Linked DNA regions of Homo sapiens. The protein of the gene in region 4 purifies or fractionates together with the protein of the main gene of each other region. This does not show direct contact. Each region holds a gene or a part of one and is shown on either strand. Other genes may lie near its edges.

Region 1 (3,500 bases), on a different chromosome or scaffold from region 4:
AGTTTAATTCAGTTGAATTCAGTCATTAAAAACTCATACTTGACATGTTTCTTTGTCAAGGGCAAAAAGAAGTCAAGTAATCAGTGAAGGAGGAGAGAATTTCCAGTGATTTTCTGTTACATTCAGTCCTTTCCCATACAATTAGTAGAAGTCACCTGGCTCCTTTTAACATTTTGGATTATTTTCATACCCCTGTCTTGCTAAAGAGAGTACTTTAGCTAAAAAGCCATTTTTCTTTTCTGAGAATAAAAGAGTTGCCCTTTAAAGAATCTTTTAAGAACAAGTAAGATTTCTGAGTCAGTGTTTAGAGAAATGCCACAACTTCTGGATACCTATAGGTAGAAATATAATGTATTAGATATTGCCTAACAAAGGTAGTCGATTCAATATTTTCACATGAAACTTTATCTTAGCGGTGATAGAATGCAACAAATACATGTGAAAATTGAAATAAGGCTGAGCACAGTGGCTCACGCCTGTAATCCCAGCACTTTGGGAGTCCGAGGTGGGCAGTTCGCGAGGTTAGGAGATCGAGACCATCCTGGCTAACACGGTGAAACCCCATCTCTACTAAAAATACACAAAAAATTAGCCGGGCGTGGTGGTGGGTGCCTGTAGTCCTAGCTACTCGGGAGGCTGAGGCAGGAGAATGGTGTGAACCCAGGAGGCACAGCTTGCAGTGAGCTGAAATTGCGCCACTGCACTCCAGCCTAGGCGACAGAGCAAGACTCCGTCTCAAAAAAAAAAAAAAGAAAGAAAGAAAATTGAAATAAATAATACTGCACTCCAGTTAACCTTCCATGCTTCCATTTGTGACCCCAGTTTACACCTTCCTCAGATTACAGGCTTTAAGGAACTTTAGAGCCAATACCTCTGTTGGCGAAGAAAGCCAACTACCCCCATCTTTCTGAAACTAAATCATAATAATGAGAGATGTTCTTCCTTGATATCCAATAATCTTGGAACATGAATTGTAGCTATGAGATGAGCCAAGTCAATAGATATTATTGGCCTGTGCTCTATTTTAGAAGACCATTCTTCTCTGGTGACCAGAAAACCTTTGAGGTTGCAAAGAGATTGGTCTGTTTTCAAAAGCATTGAGACTTTTGAGTTATGAGAATCTGTTCATTTTGAGAAGTGAGGTTTTTTTTCCATTCAAAGGATTTAAACTAAGGAATTTCTGATGGATATGCCTGCATTGACAAATATGCAAAAGGATAATTATTTTTTATTTATTCAAGGTTCATTTCACTGCCATGAAAATAAATCTTGTCAGCTATTTCATGGAACAGAAAGAACAAAAAAAAGCAAGGCAAGGAGTTGGAGTGTTGGGGGAGAATAGAAGGGAAAAAGAATAAAGGTATTATGTTAATCATCATGTTGCTTAGAGGGATAAATGAAAAGCATAGACCAGCTGGGCTATGAAGTGCACTGATAGAGCTGAAATAGAGACATACCAGAGTTATGATACAGTAATGAAGGGAATTGTTTTCATTCTCAGATTTTGCTTTCCTGTGCTTACTCCACTTTATGTAAGTAGAAGTCTTGTGACCTGTTAGAATGAGAGTGATTTTCTGTCTCACTGTTAAGATACTAATTTTTTTTTTTCTCCTAGCGACATGTTGGCAAAATCTGTCCTTACAAACTGAGACATTAGTGTGGTCTGATGGCTTGCAATCCTGACTGTTTATTCACTTGTTCTCAATAGCCCTGGGGCTGGATGGTGAGATTGGAAACTTTGAAGTGGGCAAGGAATTTGATGCCATCCTGATCAACCCCAAAGCATCCGACTCTCCCATTGACCTGTTTTATGGGGACTTTTTTGGTGATATTTCTGAGGTAAGTAAAAGAAAGTTAATCAAAAGGCATTTATTTCATAAAGTCGTCATAATAGCTTCCCTGTAGAAAAGAAAATAGAAACCGAAACTTTTTAATGGAATGCAGGAAAATCTTAAAATGGACGCTAGAGCCCTTTGATAATTATTATAATTTTATGACAGCAATGTTAAGAATAATGGTGTTAACAAAACTTTTATATTTTGAATGTGTTTGTGTATTTGAATGTATTTGGCTACAAACAGCCATAATGTAACTAGCACTCATTGAACACTTGCTATGTGCTGGGTAGGCATGGGATTAGGCACTTCCATACCTAATTTTGTTCGATCATCAGAGCAACTCTAAGAGAGTAGGTACTATTAATATTGCCATGTTAATTTATAGGGGCAGTGAGGCTTAAGGAAGGCTAAGTGATTTACGTAAAGACTCATAGCCAGTGATTAGTAGGTAGAGTTTGGATTCACACCTGGGACTTTCTGACTACGAGAGGCGAGGCTCTTGAGCACTATGCTATGTCAATGTTTTTAATTTTATAAGAAAATGAACTTTGTTTCTCTTATTATAAAATGTTTTTCTATGGATAAAATAAACTAGTTCATCTTACCTGAAAAATAATTCCTTGTAAGATATTGAGTTCTTCCTAAAAAAAGAATTAAGTATTGCCATTTCTAAATTGATCTACTTGTGAGAGTAATTGCGATAATAAATATGTTAAAGATTTTAAAAGAAAAATTCTGTATTATATGAAGTTTGTACCATTTGTTATTATAAAAGAGGAAAAATATATTTTTCTCTACCCATCTTAGGGTCAAGGCTGAGGTCACTATAACAAGAGACAGATTTAACAGGAGAAAGGCATACACATTTATTTAATATAAATTTTTTTGAGACGGAGTTTTGCTCTTGTCGCCCAGGCTGGAGTGCAATGGCATGATCTCAGCTCACTGCAACCACTGCCTCCTGGGTTCAAGCAGCTCTCCTGTCTCAGCCTCCCAGGTAGCTGGGATTACAGGCGCCCACCACCACACCCACCTAATTTTTGTATTTTTGGTAGAGACAGGGTTTCACCATGTTGGCCAAGCTGGTCTTGAACTCCTGACCTCAGGTAATCCACCTGCCTTGGCCTCCCAAAGTGTTGGGATTATAGGCGTGAGCCACTGTACCCGGCCTATTTAATATAAATTTTATGTGACATAGGTGCCTTCATAAGGAAGTGAAGAACCCAAGAAACAGGTAAACTTGGATATTTTTATGCTAGGTTTGATGAAGAGTGGAAAGTTGTAGAGAAATATGATAGGACAAAGAGTGTGGTCCAGTGGTAATAAGCTAGAGAGAACTTAGCAAGGCCTGCTTGTTCAGATTCTTCTCTGTGATCCTTTAGCTTCAGAGATCAGGTATAGGGAGGGCACCCCTTACGTGATGGTCTTATGACCTGCATTGGGGTAAGGGGTAAGGGGAGGGTCAGAGTGACCTTCCTGTGTTTGATTTGAGGGTAGCGTGTCCTGACCCCCTCATTATTTTCATATTGCTTATTCTTTTACTCTCTGATTAGAGTAAATTTCTAAGAATAGGGCTCTAGGGAATAGTCCTAGTGATTTTTCTTATATCAGGGGTGTCCAAGGGAGTTCTTAGTTTCTGTTTCAGGTTGTGCCAGTAAAGCC
Region 2 (3,500 bases), on a different chromosome or scaffold from region 4:
CCCCTTTTGGCCTCCCAAAGTGCTGGGATTGCAGGCATGAGTATGTTGAATTTTTGAACTTCCTATAAAATATAGACAGACAAATACTCATTATTCTACCCTCTTTATTTTTTGATAATTTATAAGATTGTGGTTCAAAGGTTTCCAAGTTCATTGGTTTATTCCACAAATATTTCTTTTTCTTCTTCTTTTCTTTTTTTGAGACGGAGTTTTGCTCTTATTGCCCAGGCTGGAGTGCAATGGCGTGATCTCGGCTCACCACAACCTCCGCCTCCTGAATTCAAGCGATTCTCCTGCCTCAGCCTCCCGAGTAGCTGGGATTACAGGCATTCACCACCATGCCCGGCTAATTGTGTATTTTTAGTAGAGTATTTTTAGTTGGTCAGGCTGGTCTTGAACTCTCAACCTCAGGTGATCCGCTCTCCTTGGCCTCCCAAAGTGCTGGGATTATAGGCGTGAGCCACCGCGCCAGGCCCACAAGTATTTCTGGAATGCTTTCTGTACACATGGTGCTGGGGCTGGGGATGGAGGGAACAGACAAGGTTCCAGCCCTCCTGGGGCTCATCTTTTTTTAAATTTAATTAATTAATTTATTTATAAGCTAGTCAAATTTAGCAGTGGGGGTGGGGAGTTGCATGCCAACTTTACTGACACTAATAAGTTCTGATAACCAAGGCCAGGTGCGGTGGCTCACGCCTGTAATCCCAACACTTTTGGAGGATTGCTTGAGCCCAGGCATTGAAGACCAGCTTGGGCAACATAGTGAGACACCATTTCTATTAAAAAAAAAAAAAAAAGTTCTGATAACCCACTACCATTGGACCAGCCCCGGGGCTTATCTTTTGATGGAGGGAGACAGAATAAGTAAACAGACATAAAATAACAATGAAGGCTGGGTGCGGTGGCTCACGCCTGTAATCCCAACACTTTGGGAGGCCGAGGGGGGAGCAGATCACTTGAGGTCAGGAGTTCGAGACCAGCCTGGTCAAGATGGTGAAACTGCGTCTCTACTAAAAATACAAAAATTAGCCAGGTGTGGTGGCGGGCACCTGTAATCCCAGCTACTTGGGAGGCTGAGGCATGAGAATCACTTGAACCCGGGAGGCAGAGGTTGCAGTGAGCTGAGATTGTACCACTGCACTCCAGCCTAGGCGACAGAACGAGACTCTGTCTCAAAATAAAAAAAAAAAAAAAGATGAATTTATTACATCTTAGGCGCTTCACAGCACCCGTCTCCCATGACTCTTGTTTGATTGTGGCCACAGATTGTCCCCTTCTCTCACTCCTTTCCTCTGTCCTCATCTCCCATTCCCTTCCCAGCGTCCCCTGCACTTCACGCTGGTGGCCTCAGTCCTGTGCACTTGCTGCTCCCTCTTCCTGGAAACCTCTTCTGCCTTCTTCCCCCTCCCACCTGGCCATCCACAAGGCTCACTCCCTCCTCACCCCTTTCAAGACTCTGCTCAAATGCTCCCTTCTCAGGAAGGCTGTCCATGCCCTCCTTTGAATGAATATAACTTCCCCCATATGCGTCCTTCTTTACCCTAACCCTGTTGTCCTTTCCTTTCCTTTCTTCTCCTCTCCTCTCCTTTCTCTCTTTCTCTGTTTCTCTTTCTCTCTTTCTTTCTCTTTCTCTTTCTTTTTCTTTCTTTCTTTTTTTTTTTTTTTGAGACAGGGTCTCCCTCTGTTGCCCAGGCTGGAGTGCAGTGGTGCGATATCAGCTCACTGCAACCTCCACCTCCCGGGTTCAAGCGATTCTCCTGCCTCAGCCTCCTGAGTAGCTGGGGTTACAGGCGTGTGCCACCACACCCAGCTAATTTTTTGTATTTTTAGTGGAGACGGGGTTTCACCATATTGGTCAGGCTGGTCTCGAACTCCCGACCTCAGGTGATCCGCCCGCCTTGGCCTCCCAAAGTGCTGGGATTACAGGCGTAAGCCACCACACCCAGCCAATCAGGGCTCTTTGAATTCCTTCACTGATTTATCCCCAGTGCCCGGAACAGAATTGGTGCTCTGTAAATATTTATTGAATGAATGACATTGAACAAACAGTTGCATTGAACAAAATCTCCTCTATGCCTGGCCTGGTGTTGGGTGGTGCAGGAGACACAACAGTGACCACGATGGTTCCAGTCCTGTCCTGCTGGGGCTCCCAGTCCTAAATAATGAAGGCAGTTCCAGGGCTCAGTCCTCACTGGGGCTCCTGGAGAGGAGACAGATCCATCCCCAGGCACCGATGACCCAGTGTGGTCAGAGCTGGGGCGGGGTAGCTGGGGCAGGCAGAGAGGGCTTCTTTGGAGGAGAGGGCATCTGAGGGGAAATGTCAGTGTTGAACCCAGTGTAGACAGTGTGCTAACTCAATTAGAGGCTGAGGATGTGGCTGAGATCAGAGGTGGTGTGGGCTGTGTCCGGGAATCTGTGCTTTGTCCCTAGGGCACTGGGGAGCCATGAAAAAGTTCGGAGCAGGGAAAGGAGATAATTAGACTCAAGCTACCTTTTGGAGGGTGGATTCAAGGCAGGAGAGTCTAGGAGCCTGGAGACCAGGCAAAAGGCTTGGAGGTTCCTGGATCAGGACAGGCCTTGGGGAGGGAGAGGAGAAAGGAGAGCGCGGGTTTCAGAGCGATTTTGGATGTCAGATGGAACTTTCTCAGGGGGAGGCTGCCAGGGTGGAGGCGGGGCAGGAAGCTGGGCAGGCAGGGAGGCCAAGAAGGTTCTAGGGGGTGGAGGAGCCTGAGGTGTTGGTTTAAGGAGCAGCGAGAGTGGGTGAGTCAGAGCCCCCACCCCCACCCCAGGAATCCTCCTTCGGAGGGAGCGGCCCACTGTGGACCAGGCTGCCACTCCTGGAACCTTCGGAATTCACCTTGCGCTCCTCTGCCCAGGCGGCTCTGCAGTGTCTCTCTCTCTCTTTTTCTGTCTCTATGTCAGTCTCCTTTCTACCTCTCTCTCAGTCTCTTTCTTCTCCATTTTTACTTTTTCTTTTATTCTAACTCCCTTTCCTTTTCTTTCTCGCTCTGCCTCCTCCTGTCTCTCCATCTCTCCCCCGCTCCGCCGCCGCCCTCTCTCTGTCTTCCTCCTGGTCTTGCTTAGACTCCCCCAGGTTCGTTCCCGCGGGTCCCTTGGCGGGAGCTGGAGCACAAGGCCCAGGGACAGAGGGGTGGGTCCGGGCCAGACACCTGGTGCCCCCGCCGGGCTGGGGGCGGCTCCGGAAACCCAGACAAACCCCGGAGTCAGGGACCCAGCCCCGGCCCAGCCCGCCCTCTCACCTTATCTCTTCCTGGCACCTTCCCCTGCTTCCTCTCTGGAAAAGCCATCAGCGCCCTCCCGCCTACCCTCCTTTGGTCCCTACGGAGCCGCCCTTCGGCCCTGCCCCCTGGCTCCATTGGCCCGCTCTCACAGGCCCCGCCCCCAGCCCGGCCACACCCCTGCCCTGATTGGTCCTTCAGACCATTAGGCACTCCCTCCCCCTCTTCCTGCAGGTTCATCCATGGCTCCCCAGTGCCGTT
Region 3 (2,838 bases), 660 kb from region 4:
CATTTTCATGTGAGTTTAGATTCTGCTTATCGATTTCTTTTTTTTCTTTTTTTTTTTTTTTGAGATAGCATCTTGCTTTGTCACCCAGGCTGGAGTGCTATGGCTCAATCTCAGCTCACTGCAACCTCCGCCTCCTGGGTTCGAGAGATTCTCCTGCCTCAGCCTCCAGAGTAGTTAGGACTACAGGCGCGTGCCACCATGCCAGGCTAATTTTTGTATTTTTAATAGAGATGAGGTTTCATCATGCTGACCAGGCTGGTCTCGAACTCCTGACATCAAGTAACCCGGCTGCCTCAGCCTCCCAAAGTGCTGGGATTACAGTCGTGAGCCACCATACTCAGCCTAAGATTCAGCTTACCAATTTCTGCAAAAAAGCCCACTCATTTTTAATAGGAGGTAAAAAGCAGTTGACATTTATAACTTAGAGTCTTTTAATGTTAGTGCTGAAAGGGACTAGAGAGCTCATCTAATTCAACCCACTTATTTTAGTATTGAATGAATGACCCTGTACAAGGAAAGGGATTTGCTTGAGATCCACACAGCTGTTTAAAGGCAGAGTTGGGATTGGAACCAAGTCTTAGAGAATCCATTGTTGCTTCTACACTGCATTATTGCTTTGGTTCCCTAGTGTACATTCACTTTGCTTAGGAGTGATATGTTCAGTTTATCTTCTCTAAGAATGGCAGCTGTTATTTAGGACAGTGGCATGCTGAGAAATAGATTGATTTCTATTCTATACTGTGTCCAGTAAAGGTCGGGGGAGAAAGAGTAAATCTTATCTTCTTCTGTACTTTTCTTTGATTAATGTAAGAGTCTAGAGTTTTATCAGAAGATTATTGTCCTTTAAAATATTGATGGACTGATTATCACTTAAAGGGTATAAACAGTGGGTAGTAATTCAGTGATTGAGAGGTTAATTGCAGGTTTTTTTTTTTTTTTTTTCTGGTAACCATAGAATGAATGTAGAATGAATTTGGATTCAATAATGGGAACTAAGGTCAGGCGTGGTGGCTCACACCTGTAATCCCAGCACTTTGGGAGGCCGAGGCGGGTGGATCATCTGAGGTCAGGAGTTCCAGACCAGCCTGGCCAACATGGTGAAACCTCATCTCTACTAAAATTACGAAAAATTAGTCAGGTGTGGTGACGGGTGCCTATAATCCCAGCTACTTGGGAGGCTGAGGCAGTAGAATCGCTTGAACCCGGGATGCGGAAGTTGCAGTGAGCCAAGATCACGCCACTGTACTCCATCTTGGGCGACAGAGCGCAACTCTGTCTCCAAAAAAAAAAAAAAAAAAGGGCAGGGGGAGCGGCTAGAGAAGGAACATTCAAATCTTCCCACGTGGGCAAGTTCCAAGCAAATGTTTATTTTTTTACCTCCTCTTTGGTTTTTGTCTCACTTGAAGCACTTTGTGTTTATGGGAAAATACCAAAAATTACCAAAATTTAAAAACCCAGGGCTTTGCTGGAAGTGAGGGTATCTTCTTGGCTTTTCCCTTTTCCTCCCCACCACTATACGCACATGCACACACAGCTCTATTTTTTGGTGCTTTTCGTTCATTATTCACTCCATTTCATTTTAGCTCTTGAAGTCAAAATGGGATTCCAAAGAGCAAAATAGAAGTTTGGAGAGTTTGAAATCTCTCCTCGTGGCTGGACGCCGTGGCTCACACCTGTGATCCCAGCACTTTGGGAGGCCAAGGCAGGCATACTGCTTGAACTCAGGAGTTCAAGACCAGCCTGGGGAACATGGTAAAACCCTGTCTCTACAAAAAATAGAAAAATTAGCTGGGCATGGTGGCTGTAGTCCCAGCTATTTGGGAGGCTGAGGTGGGAGGATCACTTGAGCCTGGGGAGGTTGAGACTGCACTGAGTCTTGAATGAATGAATCCATCTCTCTTTCTCTCTCCATATAGTCAAAGAGAACCAAAAATGTATGTGCTTTTTTTGTGAAATTGTTAAGGATTCCATGATCCTACTAAAATTTTTGATAATGATAATTTCAAGTGGAGAATATATAAAGGACTCGTGAGGCCTTCCTACCTCATTTTCTGAGGTTATGTTGACTTTAATATCCAATGTATCATAGGTGTTTTCTTTTTTCTCTGACAATTGTTATGTTAAAAACAAAAAGAAGCACATACTGTACAGTCAAAACTATCAGACGTAACTCTGTGGGAAACTTTATTCCAAGGGTGCTGCCACTGCCCTTGTTTTAAATATTTTTGGAACTTCATTTCTCTTCAGGTCTATTTAATAAGCTTGTTAGGAATATTGTAAATTATTTTAGAAACACATTGTGGTCTCAGCCTCATGTGGCATTGCCACTTGTTACTACATGACCCCCCCACACCCCCTAAAAAAGAAAAAGGACTTTAAAAACCCTCTCAGGACAAACATTTGCTACCGTGGTTGATTTTTTAATTTTACATTAACTATTTAATATCAGACTATAACTAAAATACAAGTAGTGGAATTATACTTTTATAAAGTATCAAATTATGTAGATGATGACGAAGTTATAAGGTTACTATAATTTCCAACTTCACCCATAGGTCATGGTATAGTTGAAATTTCATATTTAAATATCAAAACATAAATGTCTAAAGAGATTGTGTAAATTCTTTATCAGTTATAAGGAAAAACCAAATTCAAATTCTTAAGGTTTTTCTTATATGTGATTTTTTTTTTTTTTTTTTTTTTGAGACAAACTTGCAGGGAGAGAATTATGTGGCATGAGGAGGATTGAGAATGTTGTTCATTTTATCTAATTACTGCCTATTAAGAAAAGCTTCACATTTATTTCAGCTATTCTATTGAATACTTTTACCTAAGATA
Region 4 (3,500 bases):
CTTCAAGTTAACAGACACAGCATACACTGAAAGAATTAAAAATAAAAACAAAATAATCTGAAATGGAAGATGGAACTTTGCAGGTATACGGCTATCATAAAAACTGAGAGAAATAAGGTAATCTATCTTCCTTAAAGAAAAGCATGGGCCAGGTGCGGTGTAATCCCAGCACTTTAGGCGGCCAAGTGGGAAAGATCACTTCACATCTGGAGATCGAGACCATTCTGGGCAATACAGTGAGAACCTTTGAAAAAATTCAAAAATTGGACCAGGCATGGTGGCTCATGCCTGAGCCCAGGAGTTCGAGACCAGCCTGGGCGACAAAGTAAGACCCACCCCCTTCCATCTCTTAAAAAAAAGAAAAAAAAAATTTTTTTTTAATTACCCAGGCACAGTGGTGTGCACCTGTAATCCCAGCTAGGTGGGAAGATCAACTGAGCCCAGAAGTTTGAGGTTACAGTGAGCTATGATCCTGCCACTGCACTACAGCATGGGCAACAGAGCTCTTAAAAATTAAAAAAAAAAAAAAAAGAAAAGAAAAGAAAAGAAAAAGAGCAGGGTGCGGTGGCTCACCTGAGGTCAGGAGTTCGAGATCGGCCTGGCCAACATGGTGAAACCTCGTCTCTACTAAAAACACAGAAATTCACCAGGCGTGGTGGCAGGCACCTGTAATGTCAGCTACTCGTAAGGCTGAGGCGGGAGAATCGCTTGAACCCGGGAAGCGGAGGTTGCAGTGAGCCGAGATTGTGCCATTGCACTCCGGCCTAAGTGACAAGAGCGAAACACTGACTCAAAAAAAAAAAAAGAAAACAAAAAACAAAAGGGACGTGTTCTTACAACCTATTTTGCCAGCAGAAACCTACTGGATAAAGATGCAATCCAAGAAATGGGCCCAGAAGCTTAGTGGGACATCCCTTTTCCTCTAAAGCAAGGTAGGTTGAGTGCCAAGTTACTCGGTTTTGGAAGGGAAGGCATACAGTACTTACCATGACAGATCTGCTCTGTAACATGAAGGCCACAAGTACTTCCATTTAGAAATTCTCTTCTGTGATTTTTAGACGAGCATATAAGCTCCCCTAACAAGAACTGAGCCTACAGTTGAGATAGCATTATTATAGCTTCCCCGTCCACAAATATAGACCCAATAATGAGAGAATTTTAAAACTACCCAGCCTTTCTATACCCATGCTAACACTATATACATTATAAAATTCCCAAACGCTTTGTCATTACTAAGTAGTGTGTACAGTTTAAAATGAATTGCCTGAATTTGAATCCCAACTCATACCATCTTAATAGATGAATGACTTTGGACATGTTGTCATCCTTTCTGAGAGAACTTATTAAAAAAAAGAAACGCGGCCGGGTGTGGTGGCTCACGCCTGTAATCCCAGCACTTTGGGAGGCTGAGGAGGGCGGATCACCTGATGTCAGCAGTTCAAGACCAGCCTGGCCAACATGGTGAAACCGTGTCCCTACTAAAAACACAAAAATTAGCCATGCATGATGGCAGACGCCTGTAATCCCAGGCTTGAGGCTTGAAGCATGAGAATCCCTTGAACCTGGAAGGTGGAGGTTGCAGTGAGCCAAGATGATGCTACTGCACTCCAGCCAGGATGACAGAGATTCTGCCTAAAAAAAAAAAAAAAACACACACCATTTATTTCACAGGTATGCAAAAGCCCCTATCACACTATCTCTAGCACTGACCACCAAATTAGCTGATAGCCTATTTCTAAGGTGGATGATTAACACATCACAAAAACTTAATTTTACAGACAATAAATACTTGAAAAGTGTTAAGAATCAAATATTTATTTTGTTCTAAAGAAATAATCTGAAAATCAAAAGTTTTTTTGGGGAAAAGCTACAAGTAATTTAGAAAAGAAAAACTTCAACACAATAATGACTAGGTCTAGCCCAAGTATGGAAAAGCGCAATAATTTTAAGTTTCTATTGGACAAATGACTCAATTTATGGAAAATCAGAAATACTTTCCATTTTGCTCATGACAACAAAAAGAAAATATCAATTATCCTATGATGGAGAATGGAGCAAGCACACAATAATGGCTGACCCCAACTGGCAGTCAACACAAAAACATCCATGTAAAGCTTGTAGATAAACTATAATTGAAATTTTTTTTTTTTTTGAGACGGAGTCTCGCTTTGTCACCCAGACTGGAGTGCAGTGGTGCTGATCTTGGCTCACTGCAAGCTCCGCCTCCTGTGTTCACACCATTCTCCTGCCTCAGCCTCCTGAGCAGCTGGGACTACAGGCGCCCGCCACCACACCTGGCTACATTTTTGTATGTTTTTAGTAGAGACAGGGTTTCACCATATTAGCCAGGATGGTCTCGATCTCCTGACCTTGTGATCTGCCCGCCTTGGCCTCCCTAAGTGATGGGATTACAGGCATGAGCCATTGTGCCCGGCCGAAAATATCTTTAGGCTAAAAGTAATTTTCATTTTCTTTGAAATAAACCTTCAGGCTAATAAAGCAGCAAATGCAAGTAGACAGTAACATGGGAGTTTAATATGGTTAATAGCACTAAATCAGACACTGTTGTAAGAATTACGTAAGTCAATATAAGTAAACTGCTAAAAGAGTTTGGCACATAGTAGGTAGTCAGTAAATTTTGACTTATTATCCCTATTTAGATGTGACAAGAAATGTTAATCATCGACTAAAGATTACTGACAGTATTTCACAAGTATCCTGGAATTTTTTCTAAGTCCATGGTGTGTGTGTATGTGTGTTTGTGTGTGACAGGGTCTCCCTCTGTCACCCAGTGCAGTGGCATGATCACAGCTCACTGCAGCCTCCACCTCCTAGGCTCAAGTGACCCTCCCACCTCAGCCTCCAGAGCAGATAGGACTACAGGCCCGTGCCACCGCACCAGCTAATGTTTGTATGTTTTGTAGAGATGGGGTTTCGCCATGTTGCCCAGGCTGGTCTTGAACTCCCGAGCCCACACAATCCGTCGGCCTGGGCATCCCAAAATGCTGGGATTATAGGCGTGAGCCACCGCACCCAGCCTAAGTCCATTCTTTGCATTCAGTTTTCCTTACAGCCTAAATTTACAAGGGCACATCAGTAATTTAGTTAAGCTCTCCCTGCTAGATAAAAATTAAAGTCATTTTGTTTTAGTCATTTAACCTCCAACCTGCAAAATGGAGGAAGAGAGATTTGTGGCTATTTCCAAAATGGTAAAAATATAAATGGAGGTTCGGCGCAGTGGCTCACGCCTGTAATCCTAGCACTTTGGGAGGCCGAGGCGGGTGGATCACCTGAGGTACAGAGTTCGAGACCAGACTGGCCAAAATGTTGAAACCCCGTCTCTACTAAAAATACAAAAAAATTAGCCAGGCATAGTGGCACATGCCCATAGTCCCAGCTACTAAGGAGGCTGAGGTAGGAGAATTGCTTGAACTCAGGAGATGGAGGTTGCAGTGAGCCACGATGGTGCCATTGCACTCCAGCCTGGGAGACAAGAGCAA

The links. Proteins that work in one complex are often made in the same cells at the same time.
Region 1: the proteins of PPP4R3A (region 4) and GDA purify together in Homo sapiens (affinity purification with mass spectrometry; one large-scale study listed by BioGRID and IntAct). This does not show direct contact.
Region 2: the proteins of PPP4R3A (region 4) and EHD2 purify together in Homo sapiens (affinity purification with mass spectrometry; one large-scale study listed by BioGRID and IntAct). This does not show direct contact.
Region 3: the proteins of PPP4R3A (region 4) and CPSF2 fractionate together in Homo sapiens (co-fractionation; one large-scale study listed by BioGRID). This does not show direct contact.

Annotation. Positions count from the first base shown.
Region 1 is NC_000009.12:72,243,440-72,246,939, forward strand, and holds part of GDA (guanine deaminase), read left to right. Parts: intron 1-1,708; coding exon 1,709-1,839; intron 1,840-3,500. UniProt on the Homo sapiens protein: Catalyzes the hydrolytic deamination of guanine, producing xanthine and ammonia.
Region 2 is NC_000019.10:47,726,922-47,730,421, forward strand, and holds part of EHD2 (EH domain-containing protein 2), read left to right. Parts: intron 1-2,002; exon of another isoform or gene 2,003-2,200; intron 2,201-2,491; exon of another isoform or gene 2,492-2,590; intron 2,591-3,500. UniProt on the Homo sapiens protein: ATP- and membrane-binding protein that controls membrane reorganization/tubulation upon ATP hydrolysis. Plays a role in membrane trafficking between the plasma membrane and endosomes. Important for the internalization of GLUT4.
Region 3 is NC_000014.9:92,166,969-92,169,806, forward strand, and holds part of CPSF2 (cleavage and polyadenylation specificity factor subunit 2), read left to right. Parts: 3' UTR 1-2,838. UniProt on the Homo sapiens protein: Component of the cleavage and polyadenylation specificity factor (CPSF) complex that play a key role in pre-mRNA 3'-end formation, recognizing the AAUAAA signal sequence and interacting with poly(A) polymerase and other factors to bring about cleavage and poly(A) addition.
Region 4 is NC_000014.9:91,503,811-91,507,310, forward strand, and holds part of PPP4R3A (serine/threonine-protein phosphatase 4 regulatory subunit 3A), read right to left. Parts: intron 1-3,500. UniProt on the Homo sapiens protein: Regulatory subunit of serine/threonine-protein phosphatase 4. May regulate the activity of PPP4C at centrosomal microtubule organizing centers.